Regions from separate parts of the Homo sapiens genome. Here all the other regions are reported to be linked to region 1. Evidence: microRNA targets listed by miRTarBase, many of them from high-throughput screens and not tested one by one. Region 1 holds a microRNA gene; each other region holds the end of a gene's coding sequence. Distances are between the middles of the regions.

The links. Region 1 holds the annotated microRNA hsa-miR-766-3p (ACUCCAGCCCCACAGCCUCAGC, at 2,956-2,977, opposite strand). A microRNA usually pairs through its seed, bases 2 to 8, with sites in the 3' UTR of a target mRNA and lowers its output. Matches are read on the target gene's strand: a 7mer-m8 pairs with bases 2 to 8, a 7mer-A1 pairs with bases 2 to 7 and ends in A, and an 8mer does both.
Region 2: the mRNA of ZNF157 is a reported target of hsa-miR-766-3p. Seed matches in the 3' UTR shown: 7mer-m8 at 2,046-2,052.
Region 3: the mRNA of VGLL3 is a reported target of hsa-miR-766-3p. The part of its 3' UTR that is shown has no 7-base or 8-base seed match.
Region 4: miRTarBase lists MED28 as a target of hsa-miR-766-3p. The part of its 3' UTR that is shown has no 7-base or 8-base seed match.

Annotation. Positions count from the first base shown.
Region 1 is chrX:119,643,808-119,648,431 of GRCh38, forward strand. MIR766 (microRNA 766) reads right to left here and starts at 3,041; the gene lies at 2,931-3,041. All of the region lies in intron 5 of SEPTIN6 (septin 6), which reads right to left. RefSeq lists an enhancer at 4,095-4,274.
Region 2 is chrX:47,413,109-47,416,108 of GRCh38, reverse strand. ZNF157 (zinc finger protein 157) reads right to left here. Exons shown (of 4, transcript NM_003446.4): 4 at 1,611-3,000. The coding sequence ends at 2,515. Among named protein-coding and RNA genes, the nearest start is that of SNORA11C, 26 kb to the right of the region's middle.
Region 3 is chr3:86,944,279-86,947,278 of GRCh38, reverse strand. VGLL3 (vestigial like family member 3) reads left to right here. Exons shown (of 4, transcript NM_016206.4): 4 at 212-3,000. The coding sequence ends at 255. Among named protein-coding and RNA genes, the nearest start is that of VGLL3, 45 kb to the left of the region's middle.
Region 4 is chr4:17,623,429-17,626,428 of GRCh38, forward strand. It overlaps MED28 (mediator complex subunit 28), which reads left to right. Exons shown (of 4, transcript NM_025205.5): 4 at 173-3,000. The coding sequence ends at 370. Among named protein-coding and RNA genes, the nearest start is that of MED28, 10 kb to the left of the region's middle.

The DNA of each region.
Region 1 (4,624 bases):
TGCCAACCTCTCCCAGCCACCTAGGGTGGTCCGCACTCTGCCTCCTGGCTACATGGCATCTGCTAGAAGGAAGCAAACCATGACAAGCAGGAAATCATGGGGACCAGGCTCTGGCCCTCTGTTCCACTGCTTTTGAGAGACAGATGGCTTTGACAACCAGAATAGAGTCGAGCAGAGCAGAGAGCAGATACCCACCCTCCCCCCGCACCACCACGGACCATACTTCTAGGTCCTACCAATGGGATCCAAATCTGAGGCCAGGCTTTCTGCTATTTTTCCCAGGTCTCTGCAGGAAACTGACAGACAGTGGTGACATTTTCTATGTGTGGACCCAGGGAAGAGACTCTGATAGATGCAGGGCAGTGTTGCTGCTGAAACACAAACAGGCCTCTCAGGAGAGTCTGTGTGACTCTCTCACTCAGACTTCCAATGAGGCGCCCTCGGATATCAGATTTCCCAGTGTCAGAAAACTCCAACAAGAGATAGTCGCAAGCCTTCCTTGGGAGTCCATTCCTAGATTCACCATCTGTCTTAGTGCATTTTGTCTTGCTACAGTAAACTACCTGAGACTGAGTAATTTATCAACAATAGAAATTTATTCAAAAAAAAAAAATTTATTCCTCATAGTTCTGGAGGCTGGGAGGTCCAAGATCAAGGCACCAGCATTCTGGTCTGGTGAGGACCTTCTTGCCGCATCCTCACACAGCAGAAGGACAAGCTAGCCCAACACTGCATGATGTCTCTTTAAAAAGGGTCTTCGGCCAGGTGTGGTGGCTCACGCCTGTAATCCCAGCACTTTGGGAGGCCAAGGCAGGTGGATCACGAGGTCAGGAGTTCAAGACCAGCCTGGCCAAGATGGTGAAACCTCATCTCTACTAAAAATACAAAAATTAGCCGGGCGTGGTGGCGGGCGCCTGTAATCCCAGCTACTCGGGAGGCTGAGGCAGAGAATTGCTTGAACCTGGGAGGCGGAGGTTGTGGTTAGCCGAGCCAAGATCGCACCACTGCACTGCAGCCTGGCCGACAGAGCGAGACTCCATCTCAAAAAAAAAGGGCCTTCATCCCATTAACAAGGGAGAAGCCCTCATGGCCCAATCACATTTTTTTTTTTTTTTTAAGATGAGAGTTTCGCTCTTGTTGCCCAGGCTGGAGTGCAATGGCACGATCTCGGCTCACTGCAACCTCCGCCTCCCGGGTTCAAGCGATTATCTTGCCTCAGCCTCCTGAGTAGCTGGGATTACAGGTGCCTGCCACCACGCCCAGCTAATGTTTGTATTTTTAGTAGAGACAGGATGTCGCCATGTTGGCCAGGCTGGTCTTGAACTCCTGACCTTGGGTGATCCACCCGCCTTGGTCTCTCAAAGTGCTGGGATTACAGGTGTGAGCCACCGCGCCTGGCCAGGCCCAATCAATTCCTAAAGGCCCTACCTTTTTTTTTTTTTTTTTTTTTGAGACGGAGTCTCACTCTGTCGCCAGGCTGGAGTGCAGTGACGTGATCTCAGCTCACTGCAACCTCCGCGTCCCGGGTTCAAGTGATCCTCCTGCCTCAGCCTCCCGAGTAGCTGAGACTACAGGTGTGTGGCACCATGCCCAGCTATTTTTTTTTTGAGATGGAGTTTTGCTCTTGGTGCCCAGGCTGGAGTGCAATGGCGTGATCTCAGCTCACCACAACCTCCGTCTCCTGGGTTCAAGCGATCCTCCTGCCTCAGCCTCCTGAGTAGCTGGGATTATAGGCATGTGCCACCATGCCCGGCTAATTTTGCATTTTTAGTAGAGACGGGGTTTCTCCATGTTGGTTAGGCTGGTCCCGAACTCCCGACCTCAGGTGATCCACCCGCCTCGGCCTCCCAAGTAGCTGGGATTACAGGTATGAGCCACTGCGCCTGGTAATTTTTTGTATTTTTAGTAGAGACGGGGTTTCACCATGTTGGCCAGGATGGTCTCGATCTCTTGACCTTGTGATTCGCCCACCTTGGCCTCCCAAAGTGCTGGGATTACACGTGTGAGCCACTGCACCCAGCCCCGACCTCTTAATACTATCATACTGGCCACACCTGAATTTTGGAGGGGACACAATCAAACCATAGCACCACCTTTACTGACTTGTGTCTAACTTAAATTCTTCTTGTACATTGTAAAGTACTTAATAATCCAATTGGCGTGAGTTACTTTATTCTTATTTCACCACATCCATTATACTTGGGAGGCTAGGTGACTGCTTAGCCCAGTGAAATACACACTGTCAGAACTCTTTATTCCTCATCTAATGATAATATTCTGATTGGGCTTGGTTTCCTCCCAGGGTGGACAGTGTTTCCCAGTTATGTTAGTCCCCATTTCAGGCCCCTGCTGGTGACTGAACAAGACCATTGGCTGATTTGCTCTCAAGTCAACCACTGGTGATTCCTGTAAAAGTACATGGCAACAATGGAAATACCATTGCTGTCTCAGAGGAAGGGATGGACTTGTGCCTGTGGGTCTTCCTATGACCCTACTGTTCAGCCATGTGTTCTCACTGGGCCCAAATGTCAATTGCCTTTGTGGGAACCAAACCCCAGACCTCACAAATGGACAATTAATGGAGCTCAGTCAATTAAGTAACTGGGCCTTTTTGCTGGTCCTGGCCATGCTTTCAGCCATTCAAAGAACATCATTAAATTTAAAATAACATAGCAATTCTTAGTATTAAAGTCTACAACCTTGAGAGATATCAGAGCATGGGTTGAAAATAGCATGCAACAAGACCTCGCTCTCCCTTCTCTTCCCCCTCAATCTACAATAAGGTTTTCTGGAGCCACCCATAATTCAAGGTGGTGGCAGGGACCTCATTACTCTCATTTCCTGCCACAAAAATCCCCCATGGTGAGAGACAGGACATTGTACAGTCTTCTCCACTCAGGCAACAGATTTCTTCCGCTTCTTCCAATCCAGCTCCTATGACAATTGGCTGGGGTGGCTGAGGCTGTGGGGCTGGAGTCAAATCCAAAATGAAAGACCAGCACCAATTCCTCCTACCACCCAAGCCCAGGTCCTGAGGATGCAGCTTCATACACCACGGCTTGTGTGAAGACTCTGGGGACTTTTGACATAGTTGTTCGGTGGCAGGCAGGCTAAGCAATCCTCTGTGTATATTTGATAGCACCCTCTTTCCCATCACAGCGCATGTAACACAAAACACTCACATGCAAGCTCCTCTCACAGGCATGCCAATTCAGGCACACTAGCTGTGAGGCCACTCCTCTCTTTCCCACTCAAAAAAAACCCATAGTGGATTAGCCGGGCATGGTGGTGCATGCCTGTGGTCCCAGCTACTCGGGAGGCTGAGGCAGGAGGATTAGTTGAACCCAGGAGGTGGAGGCTACAGTGAGCTGAAATTGATTGCATCACTGTACTCCAGCCTGGGCGACAGAGTGAGAGCCTGTCTCAAAAAAAAAACAAAGCACAGTAGGATGCAAGGGAGTAAGTGGTGAGTGATTTATGATAGGGATAATCCTGAATCCACTGGAATTCCCTGCTCCTCTCCTCTCCTCCCCTCCCCTCCCTTCCTCCATTCCTTCCTTCCTTCCTTCCACTGGAATTCCCTCCCTCCCTCCTCCCTTCCTTCCTTCCTTTTTATTTCTTTCTCTCTTTCTCTCTTTATTTACTTTCTTTTTCTTTCCTTTCCTTTCTCTCTCTCTTTTTTTTTTTTTGTGAGACAGGGTGTTGCTCTGTCACCCAGCCTGCAGTAGTGCAGTGGCTCGATCAGGGTTCACCGCAGCCTCAACTTCCCAGGCTCAAGTAATCTTCCCACTTTAGGCCACCCACCGACCAAGTAGCTGAGACTACAGGTGTGCGCCACAGCACCAGTTAATTTTTTCTTTTTTGAGATGGAGTTTTGCTCTGGTTGCCCAGGCTGGAGTGCAAAGGCGAGATCTCAGCTCACTGCAACCTCTGCCTCCTGGGTTCAAGCGATTCTCCTGCCTCAGCCTCCTGAGTAGCTGGGATTACAGGCATGCGCCACCATGCCTGGCTAATTTTGTCTTTTTACTAGAGACGGGGTTTCTCCATGTTGGTCAGGCTGGTCTCGAACTCTTGATCTGAGGTGATCCACCTGCCTTGGCCCCCGAAAGTGTTGGAATTACAGGCGTTAGCCACCGCGCCCGGCCACTAGTTAATTTTTTTTAAATTTCAGTAGAGATGAGGTCTCACTATGTTGTTCAGCCTCGAATTTTGTTTCTCAAAGTGAAACACAATTATGAGTAATAAAGGACCCAGAATCCCTTCACAGCCATAACAGCATGCTTGACAACTGCTGCTGCCTAGCTTGGGGGTTTCCAGCCTTGAGGTTGAGCCTACCCTAGGCTTAGCAGGAGGCCAGAGCTGAGCTGAGAACAGAGCCCAGGATGATTATCACTCCTAATCCATGAGGTACCAAGATGTGGTTCTGTGTGACACCTTGAGATGGCTGAGTACTCTCAGTCCCTATTTATTCTTAGCAAAGCAAACCACAAGCCTGCAAGCTGCTTGATGACTTAGGGCATCAGTGTTCAGAAGGTCTCTATGGGGACTGATGTCCTGAGGTGACTAGACGCTTCCAGACATCAGTGCCCGTGGCACCCAGATGACACTTCTCGCGAGGCTCCCG
Region 2 (3,000 bases), 72 Mb from region 1:
CAGGCGCAGTAGCTCACGCCTGTAATCCCAGCACTTTGGGAGGCTGAGGTGGGCAGATCACCTGAGGTCAGGAGTTTGAGACCAGCCTGGCCAACATGGTGAAACCCCGTCTCTACTAAAAGTACAAAAATTAGCTGGGTGTGGTCATGCGTGTCTGTAATCCCAGCTACTCGGGAGGCTGAGGCATGAGAATTGCTCCATCCCGGGAGGCGGAGGTTGCAGTGAGCCGAGATCACGCCATTGCACTCCAGCCTGGGCAACAAGAGTGAAACTCCATCTCAAAAAATAAAAATAAAAAAGAAAAGAAAAGAGAGAGAGAGAGAAAGAAAAGAAAAGAACAAAAGAAAGAAAGACAAACCACATTCATGGAAGCCAAGGCTCAAAGCCATTTCAGACCTTACAGATTGGCAATAATTTAAAGGACTGATAATAAGTGCTGCTGAATGGCAAAATGAAAACTTTCTCAAACTGCTCATGGGAGTATAAATTAATACAATTTGGAAGGGAAATGTCAATACTTAATAAAGTTAAAAAACCTTCTGTATCAATCAGAGCCCAACTAGGAGACAAAAACCACACTAGTTATTTTAACAGAGAGAACTTATAAATAATTTTAACTAGTTATGAGGTTGTAAACCAAATAACTGAAGAGACAGAGAACATTCAAGTTATCAGGGAGGTAGCAACTGCAGAAAACAGCTGGGCTGGAATAACAAAGGGAAGAAGTTGACAATTTTTTGGGAGACAGGGTCTTGCTCTGTTGCCCAGGCTGGAGTGCAGTGGCACAATCATGGCTTACTGCAGCTTCAACCTCCAGTCTCAGACTCCCAAGTACCTGGGACCACAGGTGTGGTCCCATGCCTAGCTGATTTTTGAATTTTTTTTGTAGAGGTAGAGTTTCACCATATTTCCCAGGCTGGTCTTGACTCCTGGGCTCCAGCAATCCACCCACCTTGGCCTCCCAAAGTGTTGGGATTACAGGCATGATCCACTGCACCCAACCATAAATTGAAATTACTAAAACTTAGAAGGGGGAGGAGGGGTCCCATGTGACTAGAATTCACATCTCTAAGGAGGTGACACCAGCCAGCTGATGCTTGTGTCTCAGAGGGGATGGGCTACCATCTGTGAGTGCTGGAAAGCTGCAAACTAGATTAAACTGCTGCTGTGACAAGGAACTGCTGGTGTCTGAGTGAAGAAGCAATGCTGAGCGGACACTCCAATGACCAGGAAGCTAATAGGAATAGAAAAAAAAGGAGCAAGTCCCTTCTTCCCTCTCCAGCCCCAAAGTTTATATCTAGTATCTCTTATTGGCAAGGCCCAACAGGGAGCAGTTGACAAAGCCAAAATGTGGTTTGTAAAGTCACAAAGCACAGTCAAGAAGGGTGGGTTTGGAGCTCGGACACAATAGCTTAATAACCAGCACATTGCCTAAATCCTATGACCCATCAGTTCCACTTCTAGATTTAGACACTAAACTCGAAAAAGATACAAATGTCTTTTACTAGGGGAATGGAGAGATAAATGACTAGCCAGACCTATACTTATCAACAAGGACAGATCTTGGAAAGGTAACATTACATGAAAAAAGCAAGCTGCAGAACTTTAAATACAGTGTGAGCCCATTTATGTAAAATTATATAAAGACAATATAGTAGTATGTATTGCACACTTCATGCTATAACAAAAAAATCTCACAGGAGATTAAAATTCTAAATGTTGAAAGGAAAACCTTTAGAGGAAAGTATAGGTGAATATTATCACCTTGAAACTGATAATATTAAAATATAAAACTTTAGCCGGGCACGGTGGCTCACACCTGTAATCCCAACACTTTTGGAGGCCGAGGCAGGTGGATCACCTGAGGTCAGGAGTTAGAGACCAGCCTGGCCAACATGGTGAAACCCCGTCTTTACTAAAAATACAAAAATTAGCCAGGCATGGTGGTGCACACCTGTAATCCCAGCTACTTGGGAGACTGAGGCAGGAGAATCGCTTGAACCCGGGAGGCGAAGGTTGAAATGAGCTGAGGTCATGCCATTGCACTCCAGCCTGGGTGACAGAGTGAGACTCCATCTCAAAAAAATAAAAAATAAATAAATAAAATATAAAACTTCAGCAGAAGAAAACAGATGGCAAAATTTAAAAAACCAACGACAGTCTGGGAGAAGATATTTGCAACACATATGACTGAAAAAAAAAGGATTTTTATATTCTCATATGTTAAAAAACAACATTTAAACCAAAAAGCAAGAGATGAACAGCCCATTTGAAAACAATGAGCAGAGGACATGAACAGTCAATGCACAGAAGAAAAAACCCAAATAGCCAATCAACAGATAAGATGTTCACACACCACTAATTAGGGAAATCTGAATAAAAACAATGAGCTATCCCCTAAGGGGATCAGGACATACTTTGATACAAATGTAGGTGCCAAATTTTCACAGGCACACTGTGTGCCCTGGTGATCATATGCCCCCAAGGAGCTTGATCCAATGGTGAGGGAAGTCTTCAGTGAGAGGCTTTCTTCATTGTACAACGCCAGGACCAGCCTATGTGAGTTCTCTGATGTTCTGTGAGGTGTGCTTTCCGGCAGAAAGCTTTCCCACATTCTTGACACTCAAAGGGTCTCTCTCCTGTGTGAATTCGCTGATGTTCAATGAGGCGTACTTTCACATAGAAGGCATTTCCACATTCACTACATTCATAAGGTTTCTCTCCTGTGTGAGTTCTCCGGTGTTGACAAAGGGATTTCTTCATACTGAAGATTTTCCCACATTCACTACATTCGTAGGGTTTCTCTCCTGAATGCATCCTCTGATGTTCAATTAGGCGTGCTTTCACATAGAAAGCATTACCACACTCATTACATTCGTAAGGTTTCTCTCCTGTGTGAATTCTCTGATGGATCCCAAGAGATGAGTGCACCCTGAAAGATTTCCCACATTCATTACACTGATAGGGCTTTTCACCTGTGTGAGTTCTTTGATGATTATT
Region 3 (3,000 bases), not on the chromosome of region 1:
GTTTTTGTCACATACTGTGTTAGTTGATTTTTTGAAAATTGTGAGCTCCAGCACAGAATTTGCTTAGAGATCATGATGTCTTCAGGTCAGAACTCACAGTTGCCTGGATTATCATTTTGGTTTCTATATCCAATGTATTGCAGATTATGCTTATTTTTGGTACCATATGTATTAATGTTCTTTATTTTTTCCCCATTGTCATTTGTTCCAGGTCTACAGCATCAAGACAAGAGTAAGGAATCACCGTGGTACTGAAACACACAATCTTAGTGAGTTAAGTTGCAGCATAAATCCAAGGGCCCACTGGGAAAAGATACTGTCGGGTTTTTCCATTCAGCAATAGGACACGAAAGGCATAGAAGGAGAAGACAAAGTGTCACGCAGTTGACTGGTTTTCGGCCTTTCTTGAGAAAGCAAAGTGGGTCCCAGACATTGAAGAAAAGCATTTTTATTTGTTTATTTCCTCATCTGAGCCTTTGCCAACTGTGCAACTCTCTCCTTTTGTTATCTTGCTTTTATCAATATATAGCTAAGTTTTTGTTTCATTTTGATTTTTTTTTTTAGCCAACCACCTTGTCAGGAAAGGATGAACCACACATTAAAATGTTCATTCTTTCAGGAATACAAGTTTGTAGCTCTATGTGCATCTATTTTTGTAGAAATACAAAAAGTTTGGTTTAGCATTGATGGGCTATTTTTGAGGGATGTATTTTTTTTAAAATTGTAAAAATTGTTGAGTTCTGTTTAAAGAACTTGCTCTCAGAGAAGCACTGGCAAAAATGTTTAAAATGCTTATCTCTAAGATGTCTATTATATGCTCTGTCTGTGCTTTCTAGGTTACCTCAAATGTTTTGTTTTTTTCCTTCTTACAAAAGTAGCTATACCGTAGTCAAACCAATGCAGTATTGTTTTTACATTGAATCTCAGTAAAGATTTAATTCCATGCTAGCTCAATTAGTTTTGAATTATATGTATAGCTTGAAAAGTTTTTTTTTAATGACTGTGCTAAAGAAATGATATTTTATTGCTTTGATTTCTCCCAAAGAATAACTTGGAGGTTGACTAATAAGAAAGTTGGCATAAACTTTCAATCAAATGAAGAGTTTGCCTAGAGGAGACTAATTCTCTTTCTAGCCCATCCAAATTTGATAAATGGAACCAGAGGTTATATACAACTACAAGGAAAAAAATGCATTTAACCATGCCACCTATGAGTGCCAGTGACTTATTTTACTTGTTTTTAATTATTCATTCATGGCAATTTAAAAAGTCATATTTTAAGTGGGATTTGTTTTTCCTGAAGGGCATTTGAAGGAACAATATCTGGGAAGGTACTAGAGAAATTACAAAGCCCGAGCTCTTTCTTATAATGCCACCTATCCCTGTAAGCTAAACAAACAAACAAACAAACAAACAAACAGTTCTATATATAATAGTTTCAACACAGAACTTAACAAGTCTCTTTTTTTGTTTGTTTAAATCTGGCTTTACTTGATTTAATTCCTTTTTAGAAAGAAATTTAGGGCAAAATAAAGTGTATATTAGGATTTAAATTTATGCCACAATTTAAAAATAAAACCAGAGGTTATATACAATTTAAATTGGGCTAAAAATTAAAAATTTGAGGATTTAACTTGATATAGCTCTCAGGATCTAAATAAAGTTTAAATTATCATTAAGACACTGCTAGGAGAAGATTAAGATTATGAAAGTAACAGTTATTGATACTGCTGGACTTCAAAGGCAAAGTTCATTTCTTCCATTAACTGCTTCCAGAGATGTCATGTAAAAAAGTTAGTGTATTAGAGAAGTTTTTTAGCTTTATAAAGAGGTTTTTTCAAATTTCTCCCATTTTTCTCTCCACCCACATAAAATAGTATGTTCAGTGAAATGCCACTTTCTATCTTTAATTGTTCGTATCATATATGCGAACTTTTTAGACATGAACATGACATGTTCAGCTAGGCAGAGTTCTCATAGATAATTTTCAAATATTTTCCTTGGCTGTAATTTATGTATTCATTTATATCCTATCCGTCTTTTGAGCTTCAGATCTATATACTCTTTTGTACTCTCATCACTCCGCACTTTGCTGTTTCTTACCTAGACTCTCTTTTACACAATATGCACATTTTTACCATTGTGGGGTCCAAATTTAAGATACCTTCCACTCACTAATAATATGAACTTATATTTCCTGGGAGTAGCCAGGTTAAATTTTCTATACTTTGGTCCATAATTTGATTTGATATGATTGTTTCATTTATAATTTGCCCAAATACATGGAGCACAAAATTTAGTGAATTTATAAATCTGGATTTGCCTTGTGTCCTTCTGAGTTTTCAAAGGCAAGTATTCAACAGTCCCTGTGTGATGACTGACAGGGTTATTTGCCTCATCCACATCCACCTTCGGAATACATTAACTTCCTTTGTAATTTATTTGAAAGTAGTGTTAAACTCATTCAGATCATTCAGTTGGATTTTCCCAATGAAGAGGAAAAGGAAAGTAGTTATTCCTAGCTCCATTTCTTATTTTCCACCAAATTTAATTGAAGGGCATTAATTAGATGTCTTCACCCTGAATTTAGACTTTGCTCTGTGTTCTCCCGGTAACTGTCAGACAAAAAGTTTATTGGCTCTGAGGAACTGAGAAATGTTGGGAACCTGGTTTCTGCTGTACACAGGAAAGATTTGTAAGTGAGCTCTCTCTTTGAAAACAGGACCCAGGCTGGGCACAGCAGCTCATGCCTGTAATCCTAGTATTATAGGAGGCAGAGGCTCGGGAGGATTGCTTGAGCCCAGGAGTTCAAGATCAGCCTAGGCAACATAGGGAGACCCTATCCCTACAAAAAATTTCTGAAAAATTACCTGGGCATTGTGGGGCACACCTGTTGTCCCAGCTACTCTGGAGGCTGAGTCCGGAGGAACGTTTGAGCCTGGGAGTTTGAGTTTGCAGCTTGCAGTGAGCTGTGATTGCACCACTGTACTCCAGCTTGGG
Region 4 (3,000 bases), not on the chromosome of region 1:
TATGTTAGAATCTGTCATCTGGGTTAATCAAATAGTGGAGCCAAGCAGAGTAATGGGCTTAATATGGTTTAATGGATTCTCTTTGTTTTGAATTGTTAGCCTCTTAACTAACCAGAACCGTATGTGTTTTTCCTGCATTTGCTCTGACTTAGTCCATGACTTTCATCTGCAGGATGTGTCAGAACTAAGGAATGAATTACAGCGGAAAGATGCACTAGTCCAGAAGCACTTGACAAAGCTGAGGCATTGGCAGCAGGTGCTGGAGGACATCAACGTGCAGCACAAAAAGCCCGCCGACATCCCTCAGGGCTCCTTGGCCTACCTGGAGCAGGCATCTGCCAACATCCCTGCACCTCTGAAGCCAACGTGAGCAAAGGGCAGAGGCAGTTGGCCTATGAGTGGGCTGATGCGTGAGGTTGGCCACACATTCCTTCCTGTGGACTTGACATTTTGGAAGAACTCTTTGCCAGATAATGAGTTCATTTTAGTTTTATGCTCCCATTGAAAAATTTTCCACTATTTTTATAAGCTGTTAATTTCTTGAGTACTTTATAACATGTCTGTAGCTTGGATAAACCAAGTAAGTATTTTTTTTTTGTCTTTAGCAAAGTTTAGACTGTGAATATGATGACACAGATTCTTTTTTATGGTGGCTTTGCTTGTTTTAAATTTTTGCATGACTTTTCATCTTTTTATGTGTGTTTCCTGTAGTTTGATCCGAAGGAAAAGAGTATAGTAGCCTGAGAATCAGGAGATGGGAGTTTTAGTCGTAGGCCTTATGATAATTACCCCGCGGTGGTGTGTAGAAAAGTATGTAAATTTGCTCTGTTTTAAGACTTTGAACTACCTCAAGAAGAGGAATCTAATACAATATTTGTAATGTTTCCAGAGCTCTCAGAATGAGGATTTTTTTGTAAATAGGTCAGAAGACGATGGAACTGTCCTGGGTTAGTATAGTAATCTTACAGTAGGATCCTTAGGTTGATGCTGACTTCTGTTTGGGGTATGTTTATATTTTATGTGGTGTTTACTTTTTTTTTTTGACATAGAAGGATATAGTGGGAGCAGTGATACGCTAACATTCATTACATTCTGCAGTAATGAATCTGTTTAATGGGTCAGTCACTGTTTTCAGTAGCATGACAGTGGGGTCATAGGTGAGCTGTGAGGGGCTAAATCTTGCTCTGATTGTCTCTTTCTGTTTTGAGTTTTGTTTGCGTGTATCATTTTTGTTCTACATTTTGGGAGGGGAAACATTTTCCGTTAAGGAAGGTTGTTGCCAGTGGATTTGACTCCAAGGGACTAGAGTGTCGTGGTGGGGGTGGGGAGGGGCTGCAGGGTGATCATTGGCTACTGAGCCTCCACAGAGAGCATGTGGTGCCCTGCCTTTGGGAGGGTATTTTGCTCTCGTTAGTTTTGTGGGCAGCCTCAGATTCCCTGTTGAGTTGCTGTTAAGAAATGGAGATTTCTGGCTCTCATTGGGTAAGGTTTTCTGAGTTTTATATCTTATTAGATCACATCCCTTTACCCAGAACAAATGCTTCACTGTCTTCTGATTGGCAGTACTCCTGTGGCTTTGTGCCTTGACTCATTTTGTTGTCTTCAGCCTTGAAGGCCCCTTCCCACATGGACTGACATCCACTCATGTGCCTGATCCCTGAAGCCTCCCAGCACCCATTCAGTTGCATCCCCAGGGCACAGGACTTTGATCTCTTCTGTTGCCCTCGCTAGGTTCTCCCTGGTGGGTTAGTGCTTTGTATCTGTCTCTCTGCCCCTCACTAATTCTACACCCATGAGAATTAGACATTATTCTCCTTAAATATATAAGGACCATATAATCTGTATCTTTTTGGTGTGTGTATATGGTATCTGGCACATGGATCTCTGATTACCAGCCTGACATCAACAAATCCCCTCAGTTACAACGTATAGGTTAAACAAAGCTTTTAAAAGCTCATGTGGTATGACCTCAAGGTTGCTAACCTGGTCACTCATGGTAATTAGAAACTCTGATTGGCAGCTTTGTATTTCTTGACTAAAAACCTAAATAAACTGATTAGGTTTTAGGCGTTCTTTCAAAGAGGTTCTTGAGAAGATTGAGAACTATCCTATTTGGTGCTTAGTGAAAAGATTTTGAATTACTGTACGTACCAGTTGTTGCCATTTCTTTATTAAATTCAGAAGTTTTTTTGCCAAATAACAATTTTTCAATCTTCTCTGTTTGTAGACATCTTACTGGGTGATGAATAATCCTCTAAGAAACCCTCTGAGCTGCTAACTTTTTCAGGGAGAAAATCACAAGCCATCTTCTCAAGTTCCCCTAGAAACCTGTGGAATGCCCTCTGCCAAGCACTGCTCTGGTACTGGGGAGTGGAGTATTATGTCTTGGAAGAGACTCCTGCTGTGATTGTCCAGGGGTACGTTCTGGTCTGGCTTGGTGCTTGACCTTAGGTCTGCCCACAGGCTTCAGGCTTTCAACTTTGAAACAAACATCTGTGCCACACACATTTTGTAAATGATCCCATTCAGTCTTCTAGAAGCCTTATAACAGAATCAATATTGTTTTTCCCATTTTCACAGATGGATAATAAATCTGTAAAATAGGGATAAGACTAGGACCTATTCCCCAGGATTACTTCTGCAGATTAAAGGAGATGTTGAGGCCAGGTGCAGTGGCTCACGCCTGTAATCCCAGCACTTTGGGGGGCTGAGGCAGGAGAATCGCTTGAACCTGGGAGGCAGAGGTTGTGATGAGCCAAGATCGTGCCATTGCACTCCATCCTGGGCTACAAGAGTGAAACTCCGTCTCAAAAAAGAAAAAGGAGATGTTGAATGGGAAGTCAGCAAGGGTGCTAGAATGTAGCAAGTATTCTTCAGGTGTTAGTGATTTCTGTTGTTCGGGAAGAGGAGGGTTATGGAGGAAGAGTATGGGATTTAGGTGGGTTAAGTGATTTGCCCAAAGTCAAGAGGTTAGTCTTTAACCTTTGGCAGAAGCAGGAT